Homo sapiens: one gene and its partner. The main gene of each other region encodes a partner of the protein of the gene in region 2 in a complex. Each region holds a gene or a part of one and is shown on either strand. Other genes may lie near its edges. A codon is read from its position in the direction of its gene.

Region 1 (16,174 bases), on a different chromosome or scaffold from region 2:
ATCAGTAGCGATATAGCACCCGTAAATAGCCACTACACTCTTAGCCTGAGCAACAGAACGAAACCCTGTCTCTTATTTTTCAAAGTTTGAATAAAGGAATCTAACAGATGCCAACTTGTGGACCTAGGTTAGATATTGGTTTGGTCCAAATAGCTGTGAATGATATTTGGGTCGCTTGGGGGAAACTCCGAATATGGTATGGGTATCTAGTTTGGTTCTTGACCTCTAGAATTTTGCTTTTAGGGACAGGGTCATGCTCTGTCACCCAGGCTAGGGTGCAGTGGTGTAATCACAGCTCACTGCAGCCTCTAACTCCTGGGCTTAAGTGATCCTCCTGCCTCAGCCTCCTGAGTAGCTAGGACTACAGCTGTGTACCACCATGCCCAGCAAACTTTTTTTTTTATTTTTTGTAGAAATGAGGACTCACTCTTGTTGCCCAGACTGGTCTCAAACTCCCGGCCTCAACCAATCCTCCTGTCTCGACCTCTCAAAGTGCTGGGATTATAGGCATGAGCCACCATCACCACGCTCAACCAAGAACATTTACATAAAGGGAAAGGTAAAGATACTGACCAAGGCCGGGCACGGTGGCTCACATCTGTAATCCCAGCACTTTGGGAGGCCGAGGCGGTGGTGGATCACGAGGTCAGCAGATCGAGACCATCCTGGCTAACATGGTGAAACCCTGTCTCTACCAAAAATACAAAAAAATTAGCCGGGCTTGGTGGTGGGTGCCTGTAGTCCCAGCTACTAGGGAGGCTGAGGCAGGAGAATGGCGTGAACCCAAGAGGTGGAGCTTGCAGTGAGCCGAGATCTCACCACTGGACTCTAGCCTGGGCAACACAGCAAGACTCCATCTCAAAAAAAAAAAAAAAAAAGATACTGACCAAAACGAAAAAGTTATAATGCAGTATGATCTCAATTTGGGTTTAAAAATACCACATGTATAGACACGTACACATACACAAAAAAGATCCAGAAACATATGCACTAAAGTTATTAAAACAGTGATGACCTCTGGTTATTGGAAATATTTTTTTAATTTTGCTTATATTTTTACCAATTTCTTTCTTAGACAGGGTCTCATTCTGTCACCCAGGCTGAAGTGCAGTGGTAAGATCACTGTTCACTGTGGCCTCTACCTCCTGAGCTCAAGTGATCTTCCTACCTCAGCCTCCCAAGTAGCTAGGACTACCAGCACACACAACCATACCCAGCTAATTTTTGTATTTTTTGTAGAGATGAGGTCTTACCAAGTTGCCCAGTCTGGTCTCAAACTCCCAAGCTAAAGCGATCTGCTTGCCTTGGCCTCCCAAAATGCTGGGATTACCAGTGTGAGCCACCACGCCCTGGCCTATTTTTCTAAATTTCTACAATGCACATTACTGCTTCTATAAAAATAAAAGGTTATTTAATGTAAAGTGTCTACGCATAACCACGTACATGTGATTGACAATATTGTACTGTACACTTGGAAACCGTTGGATGAATTATTTGGATTTTTTTTTTTTTGCCACAAGAAATAAATTGAATTATTTAACGCTGAAGCCTATGTCACTTTCTTGCCTGAATCCTCCAGATGACCCACACCTGTAAGAAAGTTCAGTCCTGGCATTTGAGGGTCTTCACAACATGGTTCCTGATCTCTCCAAATTTACCCCAGGACTCTTGTTGCTAGTCTAACTTTAAGCTTTATGAGCAAGTGCTGTACTTTCTGACCTGTGCCTCAAACTGTTCTCCTCCACTTCTCCACATCAAGTTTCCCACCTTCCTTTAAGGCCTAGAAACCGTATTTTACATGGCATTGCCTTCCTTGCAGCCCCATTAACACTGTGTGCCTTGTTGATAGCTTCTGTTTCCTGATAGTAAGGCTTTAACATGAGGTTCTCTGAGGTCAAGCTCAAATTCTCAATCCAGTGCTCTTTCCACTCTATCATATTCCCTCTACTCTGTATATTTGGTTGAGAATCAGCCAGTCAGAAGGTACATGCTGCTTCCTTGATTCCTCTCACTAGTGTCACTGTTCTGTTCCAAAGCTTTATTTAGCTCAAACCTGTCAACAGGGTCTGAGTCCAAAACTCACCACCTGCTGGCCAAGGGTGGAACTAAAGGTACTTTTCCCTCTCCCACTACTATGGTCTCCAAAGACAATGCAATTCTGAATTTCCATTTTACATGGGAACGTGAGTTCACACTTATCTGAGTAGCTTTATAAAAAAAAAAATCCAAATCCTATATTAAGTATTTTAAAGCTCCTAGTGGGTTGTGGGGCTGAGCAAGGGTTAGCAAACCATTTGACACTTGCCACAGTTCAGCTGAAATGGAAGACCTGCATCCTTCACGGGCATTGTGTCCACTGAACTTTCAGGGGAATTTGTAGGATCAGTACCTTAGATCGATCTATCTAGATATATATAGATAGATCGATTTTTTTTTTTTTTTTTGAGACGGAGTCTCCATCTGTCGCCCAGGCTCACTGCAAGCTCCGCCTCCCGGGTTCATGCCATTCTCCTGCCTCAGCCTCCCGAGTAGCTGGGACTACAGGTGCCTGCCACCACCCAGCTAATTTTTTGTATTTTTAGTGTAGACGGGGTTTCACTGTGTTAGCCAGGATGGTCTCGATCTTCTGACCTCGTGATCCACCCGCCTCAGCCTCCCAAAGTGCTGGGATTACAGACGTGAGCCACCGCGCCTGGCCAAATATAAACATAGTTTAAGACATTAGATATGTTGTTCCATCTTTGTTTTTGCCTCTATGGCATACTGCTGGTCCTCTATTTGATACCACATTCTTGGTCTGAAACCCAACCTCTAATCGCAGTGTTTACCCTATATAAAGTGATCAGCTACGGTAAGATCACATTCCAGTTTCTTTCTAGGTATAATGTGAGGGGAAAGATGGACTGCCTATACAATTTGCCTCTTGGTTTAAGTATGCAGGCTTCCACAGTTTAGAAAGCATTTTTCAATCATTTTGTCAGACTAAGAAACTTGAGGCCCCAAAAGAGCTATCACCTTGTTCACAGCTATACAGGTATAACTGGCAACTCACATGTAGAAGAATGAAACTGGATCCTCATCTCTTACCTTATACAAAAATCAACTCGAGGCCTGGTGCAGCAGCTCATGCCTGAAATCCCAGCACTTTGGGAGGCTGAGGTGGGTGGATCATCTGAGGTCAGGAGTTTGAGACCAGCCTGGCCAACATGGGTGAAACCCCATCTCTACTAAAAATACAAAAATTAGCCAGAGGTGTGGTGGTGCATGCCTGCAATCCCAGCTACTTGGGAGGCTTGAAGCAGGAGAATCACTTGAGCCCGGGAGGCAGAAGTTGCACTGAGCTGAGATGGAGTACTCTGAGGCTGGGCGACAAAGGGAGACTCCGTCTCAAAAAAAAAAAAAAATCAACTCCAGATGGTTCAAAGACTTAAGTCTAAAACCTGAAACCATAAAAATTCTAGAATATCAGAAAAACCCTTCTAGACATTGGCTTAAGCAAAGACTTCATGACCCAAGAACCCAAAAGTAAATGCAACAAAAACAAAGATAAATAGATGGGACTTAATTAAAAAGCTTCTGCACAGCAAAAGAAACAGTCAGCAGAGTAAAAAGACAACCCATGGAGTGGGAGAAAATCTTTGCAACCTATACACCCAACAAAAGACTAACATCCAGGATCTACAAGGAACTGAAACAAATCAGCAAGAAAAAAACAGTCCCATCAAAAAGTGCTCTAAGGACATGAATAGACAATTCTCAAAAGAAGATATACAAATGGCCAACAAACATATTAAAAAATGCTCAACATCACCAACGATCACGGAAATGCAAATCAAACCCACAATGTGGTAACACCTTACTCCTGTAAGAATGGCCATAATCAAAAAATCAAAAAATAAAAGATGTTGGCGTGGATGTGGTGATCAGGAACACTTTACACTGCTGGTGGGAATGTAAACTAGTACAACCACTATGGAAAACAGTGTGGAGATTCCTTAAAGAACTAAAAGTAGCACTACCATTTGATCCAGCAGTCCCACTACTGGATATCTACCCAGAGGAAAAGAAATCATTATATGAAAAAGATACTTGTAAACGCACGTTTATAGCAGCACAATTTGCAACTGCAAAACTAATGGAACCAGCCCGAATGCCCATCAATGAGTGGATAAATAAATTGAATTGTGGTATACCTGAGGTCAGGAGTTCAAGACTAGCCTGGCCAATATGGTGAAGCCCCATCTCTACTAAAAATACAAAAACTAGCTGGGCGTGGTGGCGTGTGCCTGTAATCCCAGCTACATGGGAGGCTGAGGCAGGAGGACGGCTTGAACTAGGGAGGCAGAGGTTGCAGTGAGCTGAGATTATGCCACTGCACTCCAGCCTGGGAGACAACGGGAGACTCCATCTCAAAAAAAAAAAAAAAAAGAAAGAAATTGTGGTATATATACATCCAGGGAATACTACTCAGCCATAAGAAGGAACGAAATAATGGCATTTGCAGCAACTGGAATACCATTATTCTAAGTGAACTCACTCAGGAATGGAAAACCAAACATCATACGTTCTCACTCGTACATGGGAGCTAAGCTATGAGAATGCAAAGGCGTAAGAATGATACAACGGACTCTGGGGACTCAGGGAAAAGGTGGGGGGGCGGTGAGGGATAAAAGACTACACATTGGGTACGGTGTACACCGCTCAGATGACAGGTGCACCAAAATCTTAGAAATCACCACTAAAGAACTTATTCACGTAACCAACCACCACCTGTTCCCTAAAAACCTCCTGAAATAACAAATACCAAAAGTGCAAAAATACCCATTTCACAGCATGAGTTCCAGAGCTGCTCCAGTTTAGTCAACCAGTGTAAGTATCATGCATCCTTGAAGATTATCTATGTAGACCAAAACGGAGCCTGGTCTTGCCTAGCATAAAGTCTAGGATGACTAATACCAGTGTTGATCATAATCCTGAAGGACACAATCCCAAACACCATAACCCCAAATGTTGAAGTCCCAAAAGATCAAAATCCTTAAAATCACAACCTGGACAAAATAAAATTTCAAATTCTGGGGAAAGGATTAGTATGTTTTTCGTTGTAAACAAGACAGTTGCATCATGTTATACAGAAGTATTACCTTGTTATTGTCTTAAGTATGGTTTAGACACATAAGGGTGCCAAGTTGCCAATGAGCAGAATTGTGGACTTAATTTTAGGTGTCAATTTTACTGGATTAAGGAGTATTTAGAAACCTGGTAAAGCATTATCTGGGTGTGTCTGTGAGGTTGTTTCCGGGGATTAGTTTGTAAGTCTGAGTGGACTGAGTGGGGAAGATCTGCCTTCAATGTTGGTGGGTACCATCCAACAGGCGGGGGCCCAGAGAGAACAAATACAGAAGGCAAATTGGTCTCTAAGAGGTAGGATAGATTTTTCTTCTTTTTTAAGATTGAGTTTTGCTCTTGTTGCCCAGGCTGGAGTGCAATGGCTCCATCTCAGCTCACGACAACCTCCGCCTCCCGGGTTCAAGCTATTCTCTGCCTCAGCCTCCCAAGTAGCTGGGAGTACAGGCAAGCGCCACCACGCCTGGCTAATTTTGTATTTGTAGTAGAGATGGGGTTTCTCCATTTTGGTCAGGCTGGTCTTGAGCTCCCGACCTCAGGTGATCTGCCCGCCTCAGCATCCCAAAGTGCTGGGATTACAGGCATGAGCCACCATGCCCAGCCTAGGACAGATTTTTCTTCTGGTGCCTTGGACATTAAAAATTTGACTCCATGACCGCAATGTTGACTCTGTGTGTAAGCATTATATGTGTGCATAAAAATGTTGAAAGTTCCTCAATAAACGAAGAGACATCTGTTTTTTGTACACGTGCATTTGTGAAGGATAAAATTTCTCAAGACCTCGTCTCTTTGGGAGACAATGCAGTGGTAACGCAACAGTTTTTGAACCATCTCATCAAGACTTAGGTTTTCTGTCACAGTATTACAGATGACCAGTTATATAAAGCTAGGTGCCCACAATTACCAAGCATAGTGACAAAGCATTTATACATTTCACTTTTTGACCTATTTCTTTATGAATGTTTCATCTGCTCATCACCGTTATATCCGTGCAACTGTCATTGGTATACCTGAGTGTTTATCTTGCAAAAATGTTACTATTCCCTATTTTATCGTGTAGTGGCCTATGAAACGTTCTGTTGTGTTGTTTCTCAAATAAATACGCTTTTAAAAATGTAAGTAAATTTTCGAAGAATGTTTAGTATTTCTTCCAGAATTGTATTTTGGGATTTTGACCTTTTGGGATTGTGATTTTCAGAATTTTAGACTTTAGGGATTTTGATCTTTGGAGATTACAGTATTTTATTCAAAATTACGGTGTTCAGGACTGTCTTTTGAGATTATGTCCCAAAGCCAATCAACATATATTTAATTTAGTAATTTATTTTCTCTGCACTACTCTCTCTCTGGGTAAGGCATCACTGTACTGACCCTAGAAGCACTAAGTGATTACTGTTGAAGAGGATAGTCTATTTTCTGTTTGGAAAAAAAAAAAATTCAATACTAAAATTTTATATTAACAAAAAGTTTTTTTTTTTTAATCAAAGTACATAAAATAAAGGTGGACACAACTGTAAGTGATCACCAACCAGGGGATGTTTGGGATTTTTAGATGCATTAAAAGAGAGTATAGAGAATATCCACCTGCAAGTAAGATTGTATTCTTTTGCAACCCTGCGATTTTCAAATGGCACCCCAACACAGTCTTTGGTCAGGATAAGGGATCCTGCAGGCCTAGCCTTACCGTCCACATCAAATATAGGTGGAGGGATGCCATATTCTCCACATTTGGAGCTCTGTCAGGCTGCTCCCTTTCCACCAGTCCTATCCAGTGATACTGCAGACAAAGGGTGAGGCAACAGGAGACATCATACCGATGTTGATCAGGAGAGGAAGAAGGTGCAATCTTACTTCCAGGATTTCACATTTGGAAGAATGCCTTGGGAGTGGTGGGTAGCCCAAGGCTGTTCCCAGGAAAAGAAGCAGGCACAGGGCCCAGGACTCAGGCTCCATTTTGACCCAACGTTTATTGTCCTTTTACAACATGTCATTTTTTGGTTTAGAAACTGCTTGTGATTAGTTTTCCAACATTAACTCAAAAGCATGTAAAATAAATCAACCTACTCTCTATATAAACATCCAGCAACTGTGGCCCCTACCCACCTACCCAGGTTGGATAGGGGGAAGGGAGGGCTCGGGCAGCATTGAGTCAAGTGCAGATGCTTTACTGTGGCAGGTGGCAGTAGTGCCTTGGTTCACACCCCACACAGGTCCCCTGCACTGCCCCAAACTACAACAGAAATGGCATAGGCCCAAGGCCCAATTCCCTGTTGGTAATTCACTCTCCGCCTACCAAATGAAAATCGCTTTTATTTTATCGCTTTTGTTTTGTATTTTTGCAACAGAAACCCCCTGTCCAGAGTCAGACTGTAGCTGAACTGTTCAGACTGGAGAATGGAGCAGGCTGTGGGCGCACCCCTGGTCCCTCTCCTGGGCAAGCGCCCCCACCCCCAGGGAACAAGGTCCAGGCAGGCCAGCTCACTGCACGCTGGCCACCACCACTTAGCCATACAGGTCATCATCATTGTCTTCTGTGTATACACTGCCACCTGTGCCGCCTCCACTGCCCTGACTGGGGCCAGCTCCACCCTGGTTCCCTGAAGGGAATCTGTGTACAAGAGCAAAGCCAAAAAAGAGGGTTAGGACAGGGCCTGTGTAAGATTTCCACAACTACCCCTCTAGCTTCCTTAGGACTCCCATCCCTTTTGGTGTAGGTCCCCAAAGTAACTTAAGCACTGTCTAATGCTCCCAACCAACTTACCTGAAGCTGCCAAAGCCCCGACTCTGCTGAAGGGTCTGGGCAAACATCTCATACTTCCGAATGTCATTGTCACTGACAGAACGGCGCGCAAAGCGCATGGCTTCTTCAAAGTGATCTCGACGGATCTCAGGCACTGGATCATCCTCTTCTACCTCCTATAGTTGGTAAACACAGATCACTAGGGCTAGTTAAAGCCCAGCCTGGATTTCATCCCAGGCCTCCCATTACTGCAGTTTATTGGTCTCCTTGCCCTTCCAATCCAACCTGAGGTAAGATGCTAGGCCATGCTTCCTAAAATTGAGTCACTGCTCTGCTTAAAAACTTGTCAATGCACTCTGGAAAAGGGAAAACTGTAGGGACAGAAATCACATCAGTGATGGGGCTTAAGGAGGGGAGATGTTGACTGAAGTGGCTAAGGAAACTTTTTGAGATAGTAGAAATTTTAAGTCTCAACTGTGGTAGTAGTTATAGAACTTACACACACTTGTCATAAAGCATGGAAATGGTATATAGAAAGAGTGAATTTTATTGTATTTATATCATACCTTAATAAACCTTAATACTTTAAAAGGAAATGCCAATGGCTTTCAGTGCTTACCACATTTGGATTACATCCTACCTAGCGGTCTCACTTCCAGTGACATATATACTCTTAAATCTACCCAGGGTTTCCCAATGATTGCAATCCTACTACTAGAGCACATTATTTGGGCTGCTTATTCCCTTTATTCAAATTCTACTCTCTTCACAGCCCAGCTCAAAACCTATCTCTTCCATTGAGAGGCCAATTTCTGTGACTTATGTGACTACCTCCTAGGATTAGTTCATCAGTAGTTGTTAAGCTTTTATGGGAGAGAGAAGGGATGTCACAGACCCTTCAAAAGGGAAAGAAAGCCATTTATTTGCTCATTAAGTCCCATGTTTGGAACTTAATGAATTAATTAAGGGTAACACAAGACATAGTGGAAAACAAGTGAGATGACAGAGATCTTACCTTTATGGAACTTACAAACACATGAATTTGCCTTTTCATTTTGGGAGGTCTGTGGACCCTATCCCTTCCCCAACCATCAGGGATAAGTATATGAGTCTCATCTCAGCTCAAAACCTTGCTCTGTGGTTCACGCCTGTAATCCCAGCACTTTGGGAGGCCGAGGTGGGCACATCACAAGGTCAGGAGATCGAGACCATCCTGGCTAACGTGGTGAAACCACGTTTCTACTAAAAAAAAAATACAAAAAACTAGCCGGACATGGTGGCATGTGCCTGTAGTCCCAGCTACTCGGGAGGCTGAGGCAGGAGAATCGCTTGAACCTGGGAGGCAGAAGTTGCAGTGAGCCAAGATCGTGCCACTGCACTCCAGTCTGGGCAACAGAGTGAGACTTCGTCTCAAAAAAAAAACAAAAAACAAAAAACAAAAAAAACCTTGCTGTGTTTGCTGCACTCTCATACTTTGATTTCCCTCATGGAGCTTGGTTCAGACTGAGAATGGAGCCTGACCATCTCTTCTCGGCCTTATTCCAAATTGAATGGATTCACCTCAGCATTCTTTATCTTTGATGCCCTATTAAAATTCTTCTCAGTTAGATGATCTTTCCAACAGCTTCTACTCTCAACTCCAGGGCATGGTGGTGGCTGCTGCCTGGCTCTCCATGATTGGCACATCTGGGGAAAGGATGCAGACTCACCATGGCTGATGGGTTTGTCTGCCTCTCTCGTTCTCGCCTAATCTCACTCTCGATGGATTCACGGATGGCCAGCTTGCAAGCACGCTGGCAAATCTCTGTCAGGTCAGCTCCAGAGAAGCCATTAGTCATTTTAGCCAGGAACTCCAAGTCCACATCCTAAAAGCAGCAGCAGAGGTACCTTAGCATTTAGCCTCTCCTCTCGAGATACGCAGATCTTTGGGCTACCCGAGCACTCCCAACTACAGTTTGCCCCTTCTTTGGCCACCCCATTTTATTCCTGATTCTAGATTATCTTGATATCCTCAAAAATTCTACCTTCCCTTTAGACCAACCCTAACCCCAGTGGAATCTTGTCCAGAAACTAAAGAGCACTCCGTACCAGCCTGAGGACTCATGCAAGTCTCCCACAGCCCATGATCTTGCACCTGCCTTGGCAACTGGGGACTTGCGCAGGTTAGCCTTGAGGATGGCAACACGGGACTTCTCATCAGGAAGTGGGATGTAGATGAGCTGATCAAGACGGCCAGGTCTGAGGATGGCAGGATCAATGATGTCAGGCCGGTTGGTAGCGCCAATGATGAACACATTTTTTTTTGTGGACATGCCATCCATTTCTGTCAGGATCTGGTTGATGACTCGGTCAGCAGCCCCACCACCATCTCCAATGTTACCTCCACGAGCCTTGGCAATCGAATCCAGCTCATCAAAGAATAGCACACAGGGGGCAGCTTGGCGGGCCTGTAGGAGGAATGGATTGATTCAAGCACTAACAAAACTAGATGTCTCTAGGCAAACGTGGTGGCTCACACCTGTATTCCCAGCACTTTGGGAGGCCAAGGTGGGAGGATCACTTGAGGCCAGAAATCCGAAACCAGCATGGGCAACATACTGAGACTTTGTCTCTACAAAAAATAAAAAATTAGCCAGATGTGGTGACGCATGCCTATAGTCCCAGCTACTCAGGAGGCTGAAGTAGGAGAATTGCTTAAGCCCAGGTTTCAAGGTTACAGTGAGCCATGACTGTACCACTGCCCTCCAACCTGGGCAACAGAGCCAGACCCTGTCTCAAGAGAGAGAGAGAGAAAAAAAAAATAACACTAGGTCTCTCAGACCTCAGAAAGAAAATCAAGTGACTTACTGTGCAGTTGAGCAGCCAGCACTAAGAATATTTCAACCCTCTTAAAGAAAAACAGCCTCTATTCCTTGCCCTCAGGCAAATCAATACATAGTTCAGCCTATTGTAGCTCACCTTGTCAAAGATTTCTCTGACATTGGCCTCAGACTCCCCAAACCACATGGTGAGCAGCTCAGGACCCTTGATGGAGATGAAGTTGGCCTGGCATTCATTAGCAATGGCTTTGGCCAACAAAGTTTTCCCACAGCCAGGAGGTCCATAGAACAGAACTCCCTTGGAAGGTGTCATGCCAAACTTCAGGAATTTGTCTGGGTGCTCCACAGGATACTAGGAGGAAAAGGAAAGAGGGTTCAAGGCTACCTCCACATTTTGAAAGAAACCTAACTAAACAGAAGCATCCCCTCCATTATTTCATGGTGTACCCAATGGTATCAGATCCAGGTTCTCTAGAAGAAGACTCCTTAGTGCCTCAAACCTAAGAACAGTAGGTTCCTAAGTCGTGCTCTCACAACTCTTGCAGCAAATGTGTTGACACCCTGAGATCACCCAGATCAATTACAATGTACTGAGACAGTGACTCACCCTGGACCAAGTTGCCCTACCTGGACCAGCTCCTGTAGCTCACGTTTGACATCCTCTAGGCCCCCGATGTCTTCCCAGGTTACCTGTGGCACCTCTACCACGGTTTCCCGCAGTGCTGATGGGTTACTCTGGCTCAAGGCCCACTAGAAAAGGAGGGAAAACTGGGGATGAGACTTATCAAGGGAGGGGTCAAAGCACGTATGTGTGTACCTGAGGCACGGGTGTGGTCCTTACCCGGAAGTCATCCATAGTAACTGCTAGAGAGTTCATGACCTCGGCATCAATGGTCTCATCCTCTAGGTCAATGAGATCCATCTTCTTGCGGATGGCTTGCAGAGCAGCCTCTGAGCACAGGGCTGCTAAGTCAGCACCCACATGCCCGTGAGTCTCATTGGCTACCTGCAGAGAAAGATCTACTTACTATGCTGCCTCAAAGACCCAGCTGCTGCAGGAGGCTCAGAGACAATAGAATCCTTCCCCTGACTGCTATCCCTGGGTCCTCTCATTTCCTTGAATATATACTATCAATACCTTTATGGGCTGGGTTTTAAGTACTTAATTCTGGACTTGGGACCTAGAAATAAGGCTGCTCCAACAATTCTGATTTACTCTAAATGCAGCGTCAACTATGAAAAATGCCAACTCCCATTTCCTGGATTCAATCTCAGATTACTTCCTTTCCCCTGTCCAGAAATCAAAACCCATCTCCTCACATCTTAACCTTATGTCTCTAGCCAGTTCCCAGCAACTGCCTAGAGACACTGTAACGCCTGGTCAGCCATCATCATCACTTCACCTGTTCCAGGTCCACATCATCTGCCAGCTTCATGTTCTTGGTATGGATCTGAAGAATCTCTAAGCGTCCTGTAGCATCAGGAATTCCAATATCTACCTCCCTGTCAAAGCGACCTGTGGGACAGTACACAAACATAAACAGGGCTCATCTCTAGTCCAGAGGTAAGAGACAGGCCTAGGGTGACCAACCATCTCAGCCAGCACAGGATTGTCCTAATGCCAGCACTAAAAAAGTCTCAAGCTCTGGGAAACCTTTCAGTCTCAGGAAAACCAGGGTGGTTGGTCACTCTAGACAGGACGTAGGGTAAAGGAAAAAGACCCCTGGACCCAATCACTGTGAAGGGCTTCAAGAGGATTAGGTGACTTAGATGAAGGAGAGAAGTAGGACCTAAGCAAGGACGGGGTCAAAAGTATCTGGAGTCCTTACCAAATCGCCGTAGAGCTGGGTCAATGCTGTTGGGTCTGTTGGTTGCTGCCATAACAATCACATGTGCCCTCTGCTTTAGGCCATCCATGAGGGTCAACAACTGTGATACAATGCGCCGCTCCACCTCGCCATGAGTCTGCCAGAACAGGATGTCTGGTCAGAAGTGAAGTCAGGGCCTTTCAACCCCCCTCTATCCCCTCAGGTAAGCTCCTACTTTCTCTCTTTTGGGAGCGATGGCATCTAGCTCATCAATGAAGATGATGGCAGGAGCATTCTTCTCAGCCTCCTCAAAGGCTTTACGAAGGTTGCTCTCAGACTCACCAGCCAATTTGCTCATGATCTCAGGACCTGAAAGGATACAGAATGGAGACAATAACAAAATGATAGTCTTTCCCAATTCCTCCCAAAAATCAGTTATCTTGCTTGTTTGGCCCAGAGACAGGTCCTGGGTGAGAAGGTGGTAACCTCTGCCTACTTCTCACATCCTCTACCAGCCATTATCCCAGGACAGCCACCAGGCAAGGCTGGAGAGAAGCCCAGGGACTCACTATACTCTTCTCACAGTTGAACTGTAAAGGTGACAGCAAATGCTCTAGGACCTCTGGCTAGAGCAAGAGAGATGGCACACCAGATGGCACACCACTAAACAGCATTCTCCAAGAGCCAGTGATCAAAGTTCATTTGCCCCAAACCCTCTCAAATCACTAACCATTCACCCTTTGATTTCTCATTCTAGCTTGCTCCCGCTCTGCAGTCTGTCCACAATCTTTCTCAAAGGGGGCAGGACAGGGAGCACCAATGTAAAATATCTTCCCTTTATTGCTCTTCTGTCTGTAACATACCCCAGCATAAGAAATATGCTATAAACATGAAGGAGGGCATGGGTGCAAAAAGGATGTGTTCATAAGTGCTCCAGCTCATAAGCCCAGTTCAAAATTGGGTCTAGCTAGACATAAGATGAACCAAATATCTCACCATTGATCAAGAAGAAGAAGGCTCCAGTCTCATTTGCTACAGCTCGAGCAATCAGGGTCTTTCCTGTTCCAGGAGGTCCGTAAAGCAGGATTCCTCTAGGAGGCTGTGGACCAATGCAGAGTGTGATTAGGTTCCCACCTTCTCCCAAACCCTAAAATGGCTTGACTAGCGCTCCAGAGAGGGTGAGAATCAGGCTTCAACCCTGACAATATTAAGAATAAGCCCTCCGCAGTAAATGCTAAGAAGACAATTACTTTAGGCCACACTCATTTCTATTACTAGCAGGGAAAATACTGCTAGAAAGTGGGCAACATTTATGATTGCAACTTGCATAGGAGACTAAGGGCAGAGAAACTGTAGTCCAAATGCGTTTGAAGATACATGACTAGGGAAAGGCAAGAGGCCATTACACTAAGGGCTCAATTTTAGACAGACCAAGGGCCAAAGACTAGCTAAGCCATTTAAGAGAGCAGGGTCTATTTTCTTCATTGCCAGAGGATCACTCACTCCAGTAATCATGCCCTCCAGAATTTATCACACTGGAATGCTGTTCCTTACAATCATCATTTTTCTTCTTCAACACTACCCTTTCTATGGCCTCATCCACAAGCAGAACATGTAAACTGTCCACATAGAAAATGAAATTATTTGTGTGCCACCCACTAGGAAAATGAGTAACTTCATCTTCAGTGTGTTCCATGGAAACACTTTCCCACTAGGAAAAGATTGAGAAGCTACACTCTAGACCAATAGTTCTCAAATGTTTTAGACTCAGAACCCTTTAACACTCTGAAAATTTCCTTAACTTCCTTACTTCTACTGGGTGACATTGCTCTAGACAGGCTGGCAAACTATGGTGAGATTTGTTTTTACAGGGTCCATTGATACAAGAATGGCTTTTATATTCTAAGAGTTGTAAAGAAAAACCCATATATATATGTGTGTGTGTTTTGTGCGCACACGCACACAACAGACAATTTGATTAGCCTACTCTGGTTTTAGACCATCAGCTCTAATGAATTTAGAGCCTTAGGTAAACTAAAGGATACGTTATTGCCCCTCTAATCCAAGGCAATAATGAAAGCCATGCATGAAAACAGTCCCAGGATTAGACATTGGGACAGGATTAGACATTGGCACCACTTTAGACTTGATTCCAGAGCCCAGGATGCTCACCTTCACACCAATTGCCTTAAAGAGGGCAGGATGTCTCAGGGGCAGTTCCACCATCTCCTTTATCTGAGCTAGCTGCTTCCTGCAGCCACCAATGTCATCATACCCTACTTCATTCAAGGACTCTTCCTCATCCTGAATATGGAGGAGATAAAGAAAGGAGAAGGCAAGAATATTATATCAGCAAAAGCTGAGTTTCTCTAAATCATTCCACTACCTAGTGTGCAAAAACCTACCGTATAAGAAGATTCTCAACCCGGCATGGTGGCTCACATCTGTAATCCCAGCACTTTGGGAGGCAGAGGTGGGAGGAATGCTTGAGTCCAGGAGTTCCTGGGCAATACAGCAAGACTCCATCTCATTAAAAATTAAATTAAATTTAAAAAAGATTCTCCTCTAAAGGGATCCGGCCTCAAAGAACAACTACAAAAATCCCAAGGCAAAGATTTCTAGCACAGTCCTTGCCTCTCACATTACTCGTAGTCTTACTGAGAAGGGGTCTCTAAAATCTGAAGCTGGAAACCCTGGGAATGGGCAGAGGCCTGAAGCCACCATCAGCTTTACTTCAAAAATGATTTCAATCACTTATATATTTTGGGTTCAGTCTAGTTTTTTGAAATTCCTGGCATTAGGTAAATCCAAGAAACAATTAGGCCCAGAAATGAATAGCTGGCAGGTTTCTCATCCCTGAAAGATGGTTAGTTCTCCAAAGAACACCCAGTCTTTTTCTTTTTTGAGACAGAGTCTCACTCTGTCACCCAGGCTGGAGTGCAGTGGCACAATCTCAGCTCACTGCAACCTCCGACTCCTGGGTTCAACCGATTCTCCTGCCTCAGCCTCCTGAGTAGCTGGGATTACAGATGTGTACCACCATGCCTGGCTAATTTTTGTATTTTTAGTAGAGATGGGATTTCACCATGTTGCCCAGGCTGGTCTTGAACACCTGACCTCAAGTGATCTGCCCATCTCAGTCTCCCAAAGTACTGGGATTACAGGTGTCAGCCACCGCAGCCGGCCGAGCACCCAGTCCTGACAGTTACCACATGATGCCACACTGAGTAATCATAAAATCGGATACTGGAATCAGGGAGAAAACTCACCTCTCGTTTGATAGGCTCCCCTTCGCAGTGGATCACTGTGTCTGGAGCAACAATGCAATAAGGGCTAGGATCTGTTTCCACCACTTTGAACTCCACAGCACGCATCCCACCACGGACAAGAAAAATGTCTCCTGCGAGAGCAAACAGTACAAGCACAGTTAGAGGTGTCAACTACAAGACAAAGTGAGAACTCATCAGACCCTGGGGTCAAAATGCCAAGCTCATTAGATAGTGCCCTTCATTAGATATTGCCCTACCTCTCCCCAACTCCACCCCACCTGTCTTAATAAGCAGCAGGCAAGATGAGAAAGGTAAACTGTGAAGAGTCCCTCTGACAAGAGGTCAGTGAACAAAACCTGACATGTCAGAAGCCCATCAAGTTCTGACTTCTGCCATATAGGTAGCCCAAGTTTT
Region 2 (16,174 bases):
CTCGATTTCCTGACCTCGTGATCCGCCGGCCTTGGCCTCCCAAAGTGCTGGGATTACAGGCATGAGCCACCGCGCCCGGCCTATAACAGGTTTTCAAAGGGGAAAAGAACACCCTCCTAGCCTCAATATTATGTATTTTATAAGTACATGTTTAAACATGGTATTTGCATGTAATTTTACTGTATTAATAAAAACGACCACCTCATCCCCTGGAATGTTGAATCTGTTATCAGTTTGTAGAAAGGATGAACATTTCTTTCTATAAGATATCACTTCATCCTACTACCTTCTTTCTCAAAAGCCCACATACAGTCACAAATTCCAGGCTAGGGCAAACAGGACCTCCACTTGTATCAACTAATTCATGCTTTCGCTTTCAAGTCTACTGATGCTCTGAATATCCGTAGTATTTATAGTTGCTACTTTTTAATCAACATACTTATAGAAAACTAAACATTACAGTTTTTACCGTTCCTGATAAAAATGATAAAATCTGTTAAACAAGCCTTTCCCACAAAGATAAAACTGAAGAATAAAATAGGGAAGATGTTAAATACAGAAACCATGAGGAAAGACCTTTTATAATTAAGAATGTTCTAAAAAGTACATTGAAAGGTACACTATGTAAGGAAAACACAAACCAAAAATCAATACAAAGGCATACAACAGAAAGGACATGTACTCATTTTAAATATTCTTCTATCTCCAAGGTTAAAGTGAGAAAAGGCACTGGCTCAAATATTGACACTAATTGTGAGCCATTTTCAACACTATTTCCAAGCCAGTGTAAACTGAAGGAGGTAAAGGACAGTAAAGAGAATCCTGTGAGGAAAAACCTTTCTTAGTCCTCTTTTAATGTTGCCTAATTATCATACACACCTTAATTCAACAATAATGATAAGCCATTAGAAAACATTGTATTGCTAATTATGTGTGAAGTCTTTAAGTCCATGCGAATAAGTTAGTTAACTGTTACGCCCTCCAAAGAAAGCAAGAAGTGTTGTGATACAATCAACAAAACAGTGGTTTATCAGCATTCTCTTTCCCTGTAGCTTTCCTTTGAGTAGGTGCACTTGGAATTGTGCCAGTGAAGCCATATGAAATCAAACTATAGGACTCAAAGGAAATTTTAAGGTAGCCACTGCCGAGGATGATTCTGAATGTCTCTGCTTTATATTGTAGCAGGATAAGCCGCAGACAAAACCCCTCAGACACCGAGTTAAAGAAGGAAGGGCTTTATTTGGCCGGGAGCTTCGGCAAGACTCACGTCTCCAAATACCGAGCTCCCTGTGAGCAATTTCTGTCCCTTTTAAGGGCTTACAACTCTAAGGAGGTCTGCATGAGAGGGTCATGATCGATTGAGCAAGCAGGGGGTACCTGACTGGGGGCTGCATGCACCTGTAATCAGAACGGAACAGAACAGGACGGAGATTTTCACAATGCTTTTCCATACAATGTCTGGAATCTATAGATCACATAACCAGTTAGGTCAGGGGTCGATCTTTAACCAGGCCCAGGGCGTGGCGCCAGGCTCTCTGCCTGTGGGTTTCATTTCTGCCTTTTAGTTTTTACTTCTTTGGAGGCAGAAATTGGGCATAAGACAATATGAGGGGTGGTCTCCTCTCTTAATATAGAAAGATTTATCTAAAGGAAAATGAATCATGAAGTTCAAACTTTGTAAAAGAGCATTTTCCCCTGCACAGATCCCCAGGTCATAGCTATAAATTCCAAAGAGGCAAAACTGTTAAGCTAAGTGGATTAGAGCTAATTATTAGTTCTAGGACACACATGCTATTTTCATGTGCTATAACACACACACACACACATACATATACATGGTTACACATGTGTACTAGGGCTTTTTATAAACTATTTGAGTTAGAAGATACTTTAATTAAAAACTTTACAGAGGATTATAGAAATTATTAGCCTTTATGACAATATTGGTCACATATATATTCACATCATTGATCAGGGACACTCTTAAGGGGCAAACACTAATACAGGATATAGAAATAAATTATTTAGGCAGATAGTGAGGGCAAAAGAGTCCTCAACAGAACTTCCCTTTTAACAAAAAGCAGCCCTAGAAATCATTTCTTTTCCAACAAAGAGCAGCCTGAAAGATCGAGCTGCAAACATAGGTAAGGAAGCTGGAAGATTGCACGGGAGGAGGCCTGCAGCTGTGCCAATAGAAAAGGGTTACCTGGGGGCCAGACATGTCCACCATGGAAACTCCATCTTCCCTTTTTTGTTAGCATGTGTACAGTAAGAAAGAAATGGGCAACATGGAGAAGCTCAGGCAGAGAACCCACCTGCATAATAGAAGATTGGGGTGGGGGCTGCCAGAGATTTATACCCTATGCAGATGGCACACCTGTTCCTAACTGGCTTTTTGCACCCTATGTACATCAGCACTACTCCCGCCCCACTAGCTGATCTATAAAACTCCCTACATTTCACTGCGGATCAGCAACCAATTTTTCCAGGACCCCTCTTGGTAGCAGAGATCTTCTCTTTCTTTTGCCTACTAAACTTCAGCTCTTAACCTGTGTGTCCGCATTTTTGATCTCTGTGGCTGTGAGACAACGAACCTCGGGTGTCGCCCCAGACAAGGCCGCTTCAACATGATGCACTTTTTAACAATAGACGTTGCATGAACCCCAAATACCTGAGACAGGTCTCGATTTAGGAAGTTTATTTTGCCAAGGTTAAGGATGCACAGGTGTGACACAGCCTCAGGACGTCCTGATGACATGAGCCCAAGGTGGTTGGGGCACAGCTTGGTTTTATACATTTTAGGGAGACATAAGACATCAATCAATATATGTAAGATGGACATTGGATCAATATGGAAAGGTAGGACAACTCGAAGTGTGGGAGAGGACTTCCAGGGCACAGGTAGGTAAGAGACAAATGGTTGCATTCTTTTGAGTTTCTGATGAGCCCTTCCAAAGGAGGCAATCAGACAGGCCTTTATCTCAGTGAGCAGAGATAACTGAATAGAATGAATGGGAGGCAGGTTTGCACTAAGCAGTTTCCAGCTTGACTTTTCCCTTTAGCTTAGTGATTCTGGGGTCCCAAGATTTGCTTTCCTTTCACAGTTGTGACAAGGTTTTCAGAAATCCATTGTGGCAAAAAAGAAGCACCTGAACCTTTTTATTTGGGTAGAATAAAAACAGAAACAGTAACAGGATATTCAGATAATATGCTACAACCAGTTCCTTCCCTGTCCCTGACAAAGGTGCGCCAAGGGAAATTAAACCACAGGAAATGTTATTCATGTTAAAACAATCTATTCAGGACTCAAAACTACAAATCAAAGAAAATTTGAAAAACCTTTCCAATAAGTTTCAGTGAAAACATTCTTTATTAGTAAGCAGACATTTCAAACTTTTTGATTACATACATCATGCAAAATGACTGACCTCACAGATGGTTGTCTGTTCATTGTGACATCTTTTTTGAGATGATTATAAATTTAAGATGACTGCAGTAGTAAAAATAATTCATGAAAATGACTCTCAATGAAGCAAAACACTACATAGCACACATGAAATACTGTTCATCCCTCCTGGATGTTTAATTCTCTCCTAATGTAAATCTCTATCTTGGAAGACTATTATATACAAAAATGGCAGTTGTTTTTGTATGTGCATCTATAGGCACTCAACTGATAAAAACAAGAAAATTTCAAATAATTTTACAAGGATTGGTTATTTTTCCTGTTTTGTTAATCCAAAACAGGACAATGCCCTTTGATTTACAATGTTCAATTCTTTTAAGAAATCATTTTCTTCGGAAGATGATTTTGACCCATGAAAAAGTTGTTTTACCCCTGGTAATCTTTTTGAAATGGGGCTGGCTGTTACACATTATCCAAGTTGTTTTCAGTAAGTGAAAAGGAGTAGGGCTTATTTTGAGAATTCCTCTATATTACGGCACTGAGAAAACTTCTCTGCAGTGGTGGGCTCACCACTTTCATCCTGTGGTAGTTCTGGTAGCACTCCCAGTGTGAAAACCCTAGCACAGGTAAATTCACCTCTTTGAAATAAACAGTGACCCTGGAGAAAGGTGAATTCCAAATCTAGTACCATATTCAAGTCATCTGGCAGAGAAGCAGGCATAAAAGAGTTTTCTAGGTACTTGAGGTGCTGCTGTAACAAATACCTAAAAGTAGAAAAGTGGCTCTGGAATTGGGCAGTAGGTGGAGGCTGGAAGAATTCTGAGGAGCATGCCAGAAAAGAAGCTAAACTGCCTTAAACAGACTGTTAGTAGAAATATGGAATGTTAATGCTAGGGCGGCCTTGAAGAAAGGAGCATAATAGAGAATACCTCGATTGCCATAGAATATCTAAATCATCATGAATAGACTGTTGGTAAAAAATGAGGAATATGTTACTGGAGAAGTGGAGGAAAGGAGTCCTTGTTACATAGTGGCGAAAAGCTAAGCTGAGTTGTGTCCTGCCGTTATGTGTAAAGCAGAACTTTTAAGTGATGACTTCAATATTTAGCTGAGGATATTTCCAAGCAAGCTGTGGAAGGTACAGCCTGCTGTCTTCTTGCTGATTATAGTAAAATGTGGAAAGAGGTAGATTGAGGGAAGACCTGTTAAATATAAAGAAACCAGGACTTGATGATTTGGGAAATTCGCGGCCTATTCAAATGGCAAAAGCCACTAAAACTAAGATTCACCGTCAGGACAGCCTTTACTCTAGAGAAAGTGATGAAGATATGGCTGTATAACCTTTTGCTAATACTTCAGAAACATCAAAAGGTCTGAATATCAGGTCACACACAAGACTCTTTGAAGATATTAAGGGTGTGAATCATAGATCCTCTCAGCTATTTCAGAAAAAGCCAAAAACAGAGACAGGATTTTCCAGGAAAGATACGTGAGGAGCCTCCTATCTAAATGAGTGCATCCCTGTGACATATGTAAAAGACCCACAAGTTTCTTGACAACGTTATAGCAGCAGAAGCACCACCATTTTTAACAGAAAGCTTTAGAGAATATAAAAGAAGAACAAACTGATAAGTTGATACTCAGCTGCAAACGTGTGCTACCTTTTGTGAAAAAGTAAAGATGACTCTGAGACAGTCAACAAGCCCAGAGAACAGCAGTGAGCTGAAGATTACTCCCAGGCCTTGAAACTTAAAGAAGGGTGCCTCGCTGGTTTTGTAAATTGATTGGTGCTGATGGCTCCTTTTTCCATCTGTTTCTGCTTTTTGAACAGGAACGTGTGTAACTATTATTGTCTGCCTGTCATGCCATCATACTTGGGAACAGATAACTTGTTTTCTAGGTTCACAAGTGCACAGTTGGAATTATGTCCCAGAAATCACACACAGATCCTCTCCCAAACTTAATTTAGATGGCTTCAATGTGAGATTTGAGACTTTTGAGTTGGTGAGACTCAGATAAGATTTTGGATTTAGAGTTGATGCTGTAATAATGGATTGTGACTTTTGAGCACCTATGAGTGATGTAAATTTATTTGTGATGAATCTGAATCTTTAACACAGGAGTGGAGCGGGGGGTGGGTGGGAACTGTAGTAGGCAAGAATAATGTTCCATGTAAAATGTTAATGTCCTAATCTCCAAACCTGTATGTAACCTTAGATGGTAAAAGAGATTTTGCAGATGTAATTAAGGTTACTATGGATTTCAAGACAAGGAGATAAGCCTAGATTGGATATCCGGTGGGCCTCATTTAATCATGAGTCCTGCAGAGAACCTCTCCACACTGGTGTCAGAGAGATGTGGTAACAGAAGGGTCATAGAGATGAAACAGCACTGGTTTTTAAGATGGAAGAAGGAGGTCACAAGCCAAGGAATGAGGATGTCCTGTAGAAGGTGGAATGACAAGGAAATGATTCTCCTGTAGAGCCTCCTAACAGAATGCAACCCTGCCAACAAATTGATCTTGGCACCGCGAAACTCTTAACCTGGACTCCTAACCTACAGAATTGTGAAGATAATAAATTTGTGCTATTTTAAGCCACATTTTGTAACTTGTTATGGTGGCAATGGAAAACTAACCAGAAGTAATAATTAAGGATGAAATGGTGTCTAGGAAGAAGGAAAAGCTTCTGGCTTCAGCAGAAATGCAAACATTTATGCTGGTAATTCTTTAGATCTAGTCCGTCTGACAGAATTTACATTCCTGTATTTCTACACTAGTCTTGTTCTGGAGAAGACATTCTAGGTTGAGCACACAGAATAGTGTTTAGTGTATACAGTGAGTTTCCTAGAAAAATGTGTTGAATGAATAAATGAATGTGATCAACGCAAGCTCTGGGAGGAACTGTAATTACTTGATTTTAAAATATTGTTGCTGTTTACCATATCTTCTTAAGAACTGCTGACCTTTAGGCTGGGCGTGGTGGCTCATGCCTGTAATCCCAGCACTTTGGGAGGCTGAGGTGGGTGGATCACCTGAGGTTCGGAGTTCGAGACCAGCCTGATCAACACAGAGAAACGCTGTCTCTAGCAAAAGTACAAAAATTAGCCAGGCATGGTGGCGCATGCCTGTAATCCCAGCTACTTGGGAGGCTAAGGCAGGAGAATCTTTTGAACCTGGGAGGCGGAGGTTGCGGTGAGCAGAAATTATGCCATTGCACTCCAGCCTGGGCAACAAGAGCAAAACTCCATATCAAAAAAAAAAAAAAAAAGAATTGCTGACCTTTATGTGTTTCTGTTTAAGTTCACAACAGTCATAATTCTGTAAAATACAAGGCAAAACTGTAGTTTCTGATACTAGTAATATATCTAAATCAGTAAGTAAAAAGGATGTGTAAAATCTTAATAGGAGAAATAATTATTGTATGATCAAACAATTTCAAAATCAAAAGACACGTTTCAGTATATATTATAGACAAATTTTCAACTTATTTGATCAAAAGATTTCTTAATGGCTGTTGGTCAATGCTGCATCAAGAAACTTTAGTGCAAATTTTACCAAATGCATTTATCAAAAAGGGGTTTTGTTCATTTTTCTCTGCAAACAAATGTTGTTACATTAACACTAAGCATGTAACAACTCATTTGCCTAGAAATCCAAAAACTATCAACATAAGCCAGTCCTTCAACTAAAAACTCAAACATACTTATCTCAAGGTCTATTCCTAATCCAAATTTGTCTATATTCAGATTGGAAGACAGAATAACAATAAAACCAAAATTTATCTGTAAAAATAATAAAAATAATTTGGCTGTTTTTAATGCTGAAGTATTGTCCTTATTAATACGGCACATCATCTATTCCCACATGCTACTGCATGGACAGGAACAATATTATTTTAGTTGCTGGAGTAACACAGTGTTAAGAATATCTGCTTCTAGCAGTGTCAGGCTTTCATCTGTTAGCTCTTTATTCGGAAATGAAGTCACAAGAATAAAGTCAAGAGCCGCAAATTCAGGACGAGACTGTACAATAAAGTTCCGGACATCCAGGATCCTGAAGAAATAAGACAAAAATAATTTGTAATATAAAAAATCATATTTTCATGTAAACTTAAAACTGAATCATAATAAAAATCACAAAATTTTAATCTTTATATAAAGGTGTTGTAACTTTCTTTAATATATAGTATTTCAATTGAAGGATTTATCTTAGGCTTCAGTTAAAATGTAAAGTAACTTTAGTGTGTACTTAACATTTACTTTTCCTGTAAAATGGAAACAATCTTCAGGTAAGTTATGAATAAAGTAAGTGTACTAATGTTGTTATTTTAAAAGTGCAGGTCCAGCTGGGCACGGTGGCTTACGCCTGTAATTCCAGCACTTTGGGAGGCAGAGGTGGGCAGATCACTTGAGGCCAGGAGTTCAAGATTAGCCTGGCTAACACGGTGAAAACCCCGTCTCTACTAAAACCAGAAAAAATTAGCTGGGCATGGTGGTGGCTGTCTGTAATCCCAGCTACTCAAGAGGCTGAGCATGAGAATTGCTTGAATCTGGAAGGCGGAGTTTGTAGTGGGCTGAGATTCCGCCACTGCACTCCAGCCTGGGAGACAGAGTAAGACTCTGTCTCAAAAAAAAAAAAAAAAAAAAAAAAAAAAAAAAAAAATGCAGGTTGTACTTTTTTCGGAGTATAAAATGTGTTAGCAGCATATGACCCAGAAAAAGGTAACTATGATTGGCCTGTGGCAAGGTGAGTCTAAAACTATGAAATGTGCTATCATAGGAATAATTTTAAAAAATTACTCTCACATAAACATAGTAATTCAACCAAAATCATAAATATATCTATTAGGGTCTTACTTCAATGGACAAATCAAATGTTGATGTACAAGTCAATATTAAAGAAACATTTAAAACTATCTGAAGTTCTTGACAAAAGTACAATTAAACTTGATTTACAATACACATTTATATTATGAAGTATTTGCTATACAGAAAATTAATCCCAATCAAAATTATCACAAATTTTTAAATGAATAAAGTCCCCAAAAGGTTTTACTATGTTAAATTAAATCTGATTCGACTTCATATAGTTTTAGTAACAACGTAAAACTATAGTTCTTAATTTATTTTTGTGTGATATCTGAGATCACATTAGTATTTGGATAGTTTATAGAGACTGTTTAAATACCACATATTTCATTTCTTAAACACAGCTATTGTCCTTTTAAAAATGTTTCTTCTGTCAAAAACTTACTTCAAAAGTAAACCTAAAGAATATCATATTCTTCATTACTCAAGTCACATACAGTTCTACTTAGATAAGCAATCCAGTGTATATAACAGCAAACAGGACACTGTTGGTAAAGAAGCTTACCTGTGTGTACTATTGAATCTTTGTATCAAACGACTCCCATCTGCTAACCTGATTTGAATTTTTGTTGTTGGCACTGAATCATCAATAAGAACAACTGCATTAAGTATTGATTTATCCTCCTCTTCTGGAGAGGAAGGTGTACTGACTATTTCAGGTGTAAGGCTAAAAAAGAGGAATTAAACACAAATCTGAATGTGTAAAATATATGACAAACTGAAGACAGCGATAAACACTTAGAACATGGCTTCATTTGAGTCTCCTATACTTCTTTCAACCTCTTTCATTATATTAAAGTTATTTTGGATCCTACGATTCTTATTTGGTTTATCTAATCTCTCATAAAAGCCTAACTTTGCATCCTTTCCTCATTTAACTGTTTGCAACTTCATCACTGTTTAGCAAACCAGTTTTATTTAGAAATACGAGCAACTCTGAGTTAGGGTCAAAGAATCATTAAGAGCACAGACAGACATGGTTTCACATCCCAGCCATGTCAACTGTGTAAAGTTGAGTAAGTACATCAATCATTTTGAATCCCAGTTCTATCATTTATAAAGTGAGGGAATAATACTATGTTATGAAGGTATATTATACCAGTAAGTCCTTAATATTGTGCCTAGAACACAGTGTTTCAACGGGTGCCAGCTATTGTGAACATATTATCAGCACTAAATTCATTTAATTTGGACTTGGTTAATATCATTTAAACACATCTGATTCAAGCACTGCTTTGCAAAAGAGAAATAACTTCTAAGTACCATTGAGGAATAAAATGTTATTACATGACAATAAATTCATAATGAAGCTTGATAGAATATCTTACCATTAGAACTTGGTTACTAGTGACCCTGGCATTGCTGTCTTAGCCCCTTCTAACACTAGCAGGATGATCAGCCAGTATATGCCAAAAGTGAATGTCAAAAATAGAGGAGTGCTCTTTTGGTTAAATAATTCAAATAAATTTAGCTCAATTTTCTCAGTCATCTTAAGGAATTTTTGATAGTCTTGAAGTTTTTTCTCTTGAACTCTGAGATTTAGATGGTTTCCTATAGATTATTTTCTTCTGGAAGAAAGACACGCATGTATCTACATATTACTAGTATAAAAGTTCTATGAGCATTTGGGCTTTAGTCCAATCTAAATCATCATGACTCTTACTTCCATTCAAAAAGCTTCTCTCTCAGAGTACACAGTAAAGTGATAAAATTACCTGGTACTAACTGCTGACACTTTCTCTTTCTTTAGCTATTTCCTGATGCTAATTTTAGAACTGATTTGAGGATACATAAAAATATACATAAGGTTAAAATTATGACTTACAATAAATGATCAGATATTAAGGAATTTCTTTTTAATTTGGAATTGAGGGCCTAAGTAATTGCACTGCCAATCTGGTTTACTGTGCCAAGAGTCCAGCGTTCCTTACACAAGGGAGGGGGATGAAAATCCAAGAGAAAAGACATGAGACACTGAATGCAAAGGTCCTCTTTACCTCCGCCTCACTGATAACCAGGTATACACATTATCATCGTCACTACCACCATTACCACCTCTGCCACATGCATTATTTCATTTACATCAGCCTGGGAAGCAGTGTTAACAGCATGGTTCTCAGAGCTGGATTACCTGGTTTCAATCCCAACTCTGCACTTATTCTGTAACACCAGGCAAGTCACTTACCCTTATTGTGCCTGAGAGCCAACAGCAGCAGTGCTGTAAAGATTAAATTAATTAGGACACATAAGCACTTCAAATGGTGCTTTTATATAGTTGGCACTACTAAAAGTTGGCTATTAGCATTATAATTATCCTAACAACAACTCTGGAAAAAAAAAGTTACCCCCAATATTCCTATTGGTAAGTGAGAGAGCTGAGGTTTATATTGGGCTCTTTCTACACACCAAGTTGCCTCCCTATTATTTTTGTAATCTACTGCTTTCTGTTTTAAGGCAGATTCTGACCAGGTATGCTTTTTCTCAAAACAGAAAATGGAGGATGGGGAAGCTAGGTAAGAAAATGTGTGTATGTCACAATGAAACTATTGTATATGGAATAATAACATTTGAGAACTGGAATGGATGGACTTCCAACATAATTTAGGCCAACCATATCATTTTATCTAAAAGAAACCGAGTCACAGAGAGACTAAAAGACATGCTCAGAACCACACAGACAGATAGCTGGACAAGCTGGTAGTGTGGTATTAAAAAACCAGCCTAAAAAGTTATGTTAATTAATTTATTTTATTTATTTATTTTTCTGGGATGCAGTGTTGCTCTGTTGCCCAGGCTGGAGTGCAGTGGTGTGATCTCAGCTCACTGCAACCTCTGCCTCCTGAGTTCAAGTGATTCTCCTGCCTCAGCCTCCCAAGTAGCTGGGATTACAGGTGCCTGTCACCACATGCGGCTAATTTTTTTTTTTTTTTTTTTTGGATTTTTAGTAGAGATGGGGTTTCGCCATGTTGGCCAGGCTGGTCTTGAATTCCTAATCTCAAGTCATCTGCCTGCCTCGGCCTCCCAAAGTGCTGGGATTACAGGTGTGAGCCACTGTGCCCATGCAAGTTATGTTAATTCTAATATTTAGCTGTCAAAATCACATCTGTTTGCTATTTAAAACTTTCTCCCTATCATTCAATTGATCAAGCCATAGTAAAACTTTTACATTAAAAAGAAAATTTTTTAAGAAAGAAAAGAGAAATTAATTGGTACAACAAGGTTTGTAGGCAAATGGCAGGAAAGGATGTAGGTTGTAATTCCCTCAGAGACAGGAGAAACACCCTCTTCTTCAAACTTATGGAGGGAGAGGAGGATGGAAATGACCAGCTTGAAGGCTGGAGGGAAACATAATAAGAATGTGAATTCCCGTCAGGTTCTATTTTCTCAATGAAGCTGGAAGCAAAGAAATTTGCTGAGAGTGAGGGGCAGGGGTCGAGGAGGGGGTTTAGGAAAGCAGCTCAGGCCTGTGAGACTGGCGAGGCACAGCACTGCCTGCTCAGCACAGCTGAGGCTGTCCCCAGAAGTACTGAGTCACACAGGGCTGACAACCCAGTCAGGCTTCAGTCAGCTCACAGCTGTTGAGGAGCTGAGATAAAGTAAGGCTTTGAAGTTTTAGAGAAGACAGCCCTCAGGGTCTAGGGCCCCAGATGAAGTCAAATCTCAGGTAAGTGAGAGTGGCAAGCACAATCTTTTGAAGAGAACAGTAGGACAAACAGGCAGTGACTGTTCTTCTGCAGAAACATCAGCTTCAAATCATGATTTTTATCATTATACACGCCAGCTCAAAAGCCTACCAAGAATGCCTACTCGCTAGTCCTCCCTATTAAAAATGACTCTGTGATTTTGTTAGGCACTACTCTAGCTCACCAAGCTAATTTTTACTCAATAATACAGTTTGTTCTACCATTGCAAATTTGCAGTTTTATATCTATGGTTTGCTTTCTTCTATTATGTGAGGGTACTATGTAACATTTTTACAGCATTTTGGTTTGCACCATAATTGTATATCACATGAAAAGATTTAGTTCCCATCTATGTAACATTCTGTGTGTAATTAGACTGCCATCTATGGAAGACAATAGATTATTTTCATTTCTGTTTTACTTGCTTCTTTTTATTTCCTGCTCAGTAAATAATTGTCTTGAACTCTTGAGAACCAAGCCATTTTAGAAAGTTACTTTCTAAATGAAGGTTAACTATTAAACTTTTAATATATTTCTTAATGTAAATCTTTAATATAAAATGTTCTATGTAATTCTTCACTTTAGAATATATGATATTTGCTTATTCAACATTTGGGTTTGTGAACACATAGGCTCACATCATCATGCTATCTCCTTCTACTAGAAGCTGAAAATTCTAAAGACTCCATCTCCCAGACTCTCTTGCAGCTAGGATTTCATGATTCTACCCTTCCACCAAACAAACATACACTTGTTTGGTGGAAGTAAGCACTGCAAAGTGGAAACTCTGTAGCTCTTGTGGTTACTAAGGTGGTGGAGGCATTTATTTCTTCGATGATGGAATGTTCTAGTATCTAGTCCCTAGTTTCATGGGCACCAAGCACCTGACTAGGGGACATAGTTGTTTTCTCTGGAACACTCTTCCACTGTGTTTGTTTCTCCTGGCTAAGGAAAGCTTGGTTTGCTTGCCTCTTCCAGATATTCTATAAACTACACAAGATCCTGTAAGAAACCTATTACTACCAGCAAGTAGATTCTGTTTTCCATAATCAAAATCTTGATCAATATGGCTAGTAAATTAACATGGCATTATTACCACTGATCTCTGTCACTTTCTTCCATCAGTTTCTCCTTTCTTTTCTGTTATTTTCTCTATTTGCCTTATAAGGAAAATGACTGGCCTTTGTGAATACTATCATCAGATAATATCGTTATTTTCATGAGTTTAATAATCACTGGCTCTTCTTAGCTGCCTTCCCTTTATGCTACCTTCTTCAATTCCAAGTCTAGATTTACTGTAGGTCTACTAACAAGGATGTGCGGTCCAACATTAATTCTTGGTCATACATTTAAATAATAGAGAAGGAATATGTATATATTGAAGAGATGACTAGGCATTTTATCTGCATTCTAATTAAAAATCGTAATCTCAATAAATATTAAGTAAAAATGGGAAGTGATACAAAATTAAGAACATACATACATACTATATATACACATACATACATATATATACACATACATATATATATATATATATATGTTGATCACAACAAGAGGAGTAAAAACATAATATTATACAATTTGAGAGAAGCCTGGCCAGGCATAGTGGCTCATGCCTGTAACCCAGGCACTTTGGCAGGCCAAGGCAGAAGAACAGCTTGAGGCCAGGAATTCAAGACCAGCCTGGGCAACATAGTAAGACACGTGTCTCTACAAAACCTAAAAATGAAAAAAAATGAGCTGCGCTCGGCAGTGCCTATAGTCCCAGTCAGGAGAGTGGGGTAGGAAGCTTGCCTGAGCCCAGGAGGTCAAGGCTGCAGTGAACTATGACTACACCACTGTACTCCAGTCTGGGCAACAGAGCAAGACCCCATCTCAAAAAAAAAAAAAGAGAAAGAAAGAGAAGCCTGACGTGTAAAGAGAGACGAGGGAGAAAATTTCCAAGTAAACCTGTGACCTAAAATTAAAGAGTTTGTGTCCTAAGAAAAACAGGTCAACATAAATTCCTGTATTTCCTTTATGTCCCCAGTGCCAGTCTCTATCAGGAGAAGAGAATACAGAAAGGGAGACTAGAGATAGCAAAGCATAAAGAAGCAATATTGAATTTTTTCCTATCTTGAAAAATAAGGGGAGAATAGACAACCAGTGTACACGAGGCAACTGAAGGGGGCTTGGAAGGGAAGGAATCACATGAAGAGAAGCAAAGGATGCACCAAAGAATACACTGGAAACATTGCCAATGTGGCAATTCCATATCACCTGCAACAATATGTGGACGAGTAGAGGGTAACTTTTACCAACATATTTTAAATTTCTAAGATTACATTAAGCCATGGGTATTATAAAGGAAACCACTCATACATTCTGCCATGTGCGTTGGTTTTTAAATTGTGCTCTTCAAAGTCCTAAGGTTCTTTGGAAATGTCTCAGATACAATGCCTTCTTTCACCGACAATCAGAGGAGCTCAGGTTTTACATATTGCACTTCCATGACTTGAAAAAAGGGTTTGGCTGTTTAAAAACTATTGAAAATCACAAAGCTAAGCACATTGCTCCTGCTGCAAGAGTTTGGTCATTACTGATGGCAGACATGCATGCTTAAGTTGTGATGTAAGGTATCCATTATTTTATCTCATCGACAACCCTTTACAATTCTCTCCTTTGAAACCAGGTAATCTGAAAGAGGCATATAATATAGTGGTGAAAAGCACAAACTCTGTAGTCAGAGTGCCTGGGTTTGAATCCCACATGCTAGTCATTTCTTAGCTCAACAATCTTGGGCAAATTACTGCATCTGCAAAATGAAGTAATAACAGTATCTACATCAAAGAGCTGTTGTAAAGATTAAGTGAGATAACACATGTATACGGCTTAGAGGGCCACAAACATGGTAACTGCAATCTAAGTATTAATTACAGTATTATTAATATCACAATTAATATTATGATATAATGGTATCACATGATATAATATTATGATATAATATTAACAGATGTATATATCTAATGTGCATGGTTCATATTTTTGTTTTTTACTTCATAGGTCATTTTGCTTTTCTTATTCTCAAAGAAAAATTCATGTTCAACAAAGGTATTTTTCTCATTTTAGGATTTTTACCTTCCAAGTTTTTGCCCTTCTCCACTAAAAGCCTTGAACCTCAATCTAGGTTTTATGTATTCTTGATCCTGATGATCCTCCATATCCAAATTCACTTGGCCACCATGAACAAGGCGCTGAAGCTCCAGGGGAATCTCTCTTTTAAAAAGGGGGGAAAAAAGTTATCATTAAGTTTTCCAAGAATTAAACTACACTGTTGAGATTACTGTAATTATTTCATGAGCTACACTGGAAAACAGAATTTTTTGCTTAAATTATAACACAAAAATTTCCATAATGACTGATCAGTCCTTGTAGATCTTTTTTAAAGTCACTTCACATTACTCCTTACTGGTTCTCAACATAGGGATGCTTTGGTTGTCACAATTATCTTGGAGAGCTTCTGGTATTTAGAAAGTTAAATTTTAAGACAGCAATTTATATGTAAATCAGCACTAGAAAATTCCTATGAGGATAAAAAGGTAATGTGGATATTTATTAATAAACTCCTCGGAGAAAGTTCTGAAAATTGATATGGGTGTTTTTGCTTGTTGGGTGTACTAGTCCATTTGCATTGCTATAAGGAAATATCCGAGGCTGGGTAATTTATAAAGCAAAGAGGTTTACTTTGGCTCATGGTTCTGCAGGCTGTAAAAGCAACAAGGCACCAGAATCTGCTTCTGGTGAGACCTCGGGAAACTTACAATCACAGTGGAAGGCAAAAGGGGACCCAGCATATCACATGGCAAGAGCAGAAGCAAGAGGGAGATGGGAGGTTCCAGGCTATTAAACAACCAGCTCTTGAGTGAACTACCGGGGTGAGAACTCATTACCATGGGGATGGCACCAAGTCATTCATGAGGGATCTGCCTCCATGATCCAAAACCTCCCACCAGCCCCACCTCAGTAATGGAGGTCACACTTCAACATGAGATTTGGAGGGGACAAAACATCCAAACCATATCATTCCACCACTGGCCCCCCAAATCTCATGTCCTTCTCACATCACAAAATACAATCATCCCTTCTCAATAGTCCCCCAAAGTTTTAACTCGTTCCAGCATTAACTCAAAAGTCCAAAATCTCATCTGAGATTCAAGCCATCTTCTTTCTACCT

Evidence for each region.
Region 1: the proteins of UBXN2B (region 2) and VCP are in contact, whole or in part, in a cryo-EM structure (PDB 8B5R), measured with the Homo sapiens proteins. Residues at the interface, in NP_001071087.1 of Homo sapiens: Phe215, Ser216, Gly217, Glu218, Gln220, Leu222, Gly223, Leu225 (codon at 8,941); in NP_009057.1 of Homo sapiens: Arg113, His115, Glu132, Leu140, Ile182, His183, Cys184, Glu185, Glu187.

Annotation. Positions count from the first base shown.
Region 1 is NC_000009.12:35,049,491-35,065,664, forward strand, and holds the end of VCP (transitional endoplasmic reticulum ATPase), read right to left. Parts: intron 15,892-16,174; coding exon 15,761-15,891; intron 14,796-15,760; coding exon 14,664-14,795; intron 13,591-14,663; coding exon 13,488-13,590; intron 12,861-13,487; coding exon 12,727-12,860; intron 12,649-12,726; coding exon 12,513-12,648; intron 12,200-12,512; coding exon 12,087-12,199; intron 11,690-12,086; coding exon 11,525-11,689; intron 11,434-11,524; coding exon 11,311-11,433; intron 11,036-11,310; coding exon 10,823-11,035; intron 10,312-10,822; coding exon 10,003-10,311; intron 9,730-10,002; coding exon 9,574-9,729; intron 8,041-9,573; coding exon 7,886-8,040; intron 7,733-7,885; coding exon 7,627-7,732; 3' UTR 6,574-7,626; downstream 1-6,573. UniProt on the Homo sapiens protein: Necessary for the fragmentation of Golgi stacks during mitosis and for their reassembly after mitosis. Involved in the formation of the transitional endoplasmic reticulum (tER).
Region 2 is NC_000008.11:58,438,675-58,454,848, reverse strand, and holds the end of UBXN2B (UBX domain-containing protein 2B), read right to left. Parts: intron 15,217-16,174; coding exon 15,079-15,216; intron 8,943-15,078; coding exon 8,781-8,942; intron 7,461-8,780; coding exon 7,298-7,460; 3' UTR 3,348-7,297; downstream 1-3,347. UniProt on the Homo sapiens protein: Adapter protein required for Golgi and endoplasmic reticulum biogenesis. Involved in Golgi and endoplasmic reticulum maintenance during interphase and in their reassembly at the end of mitosis.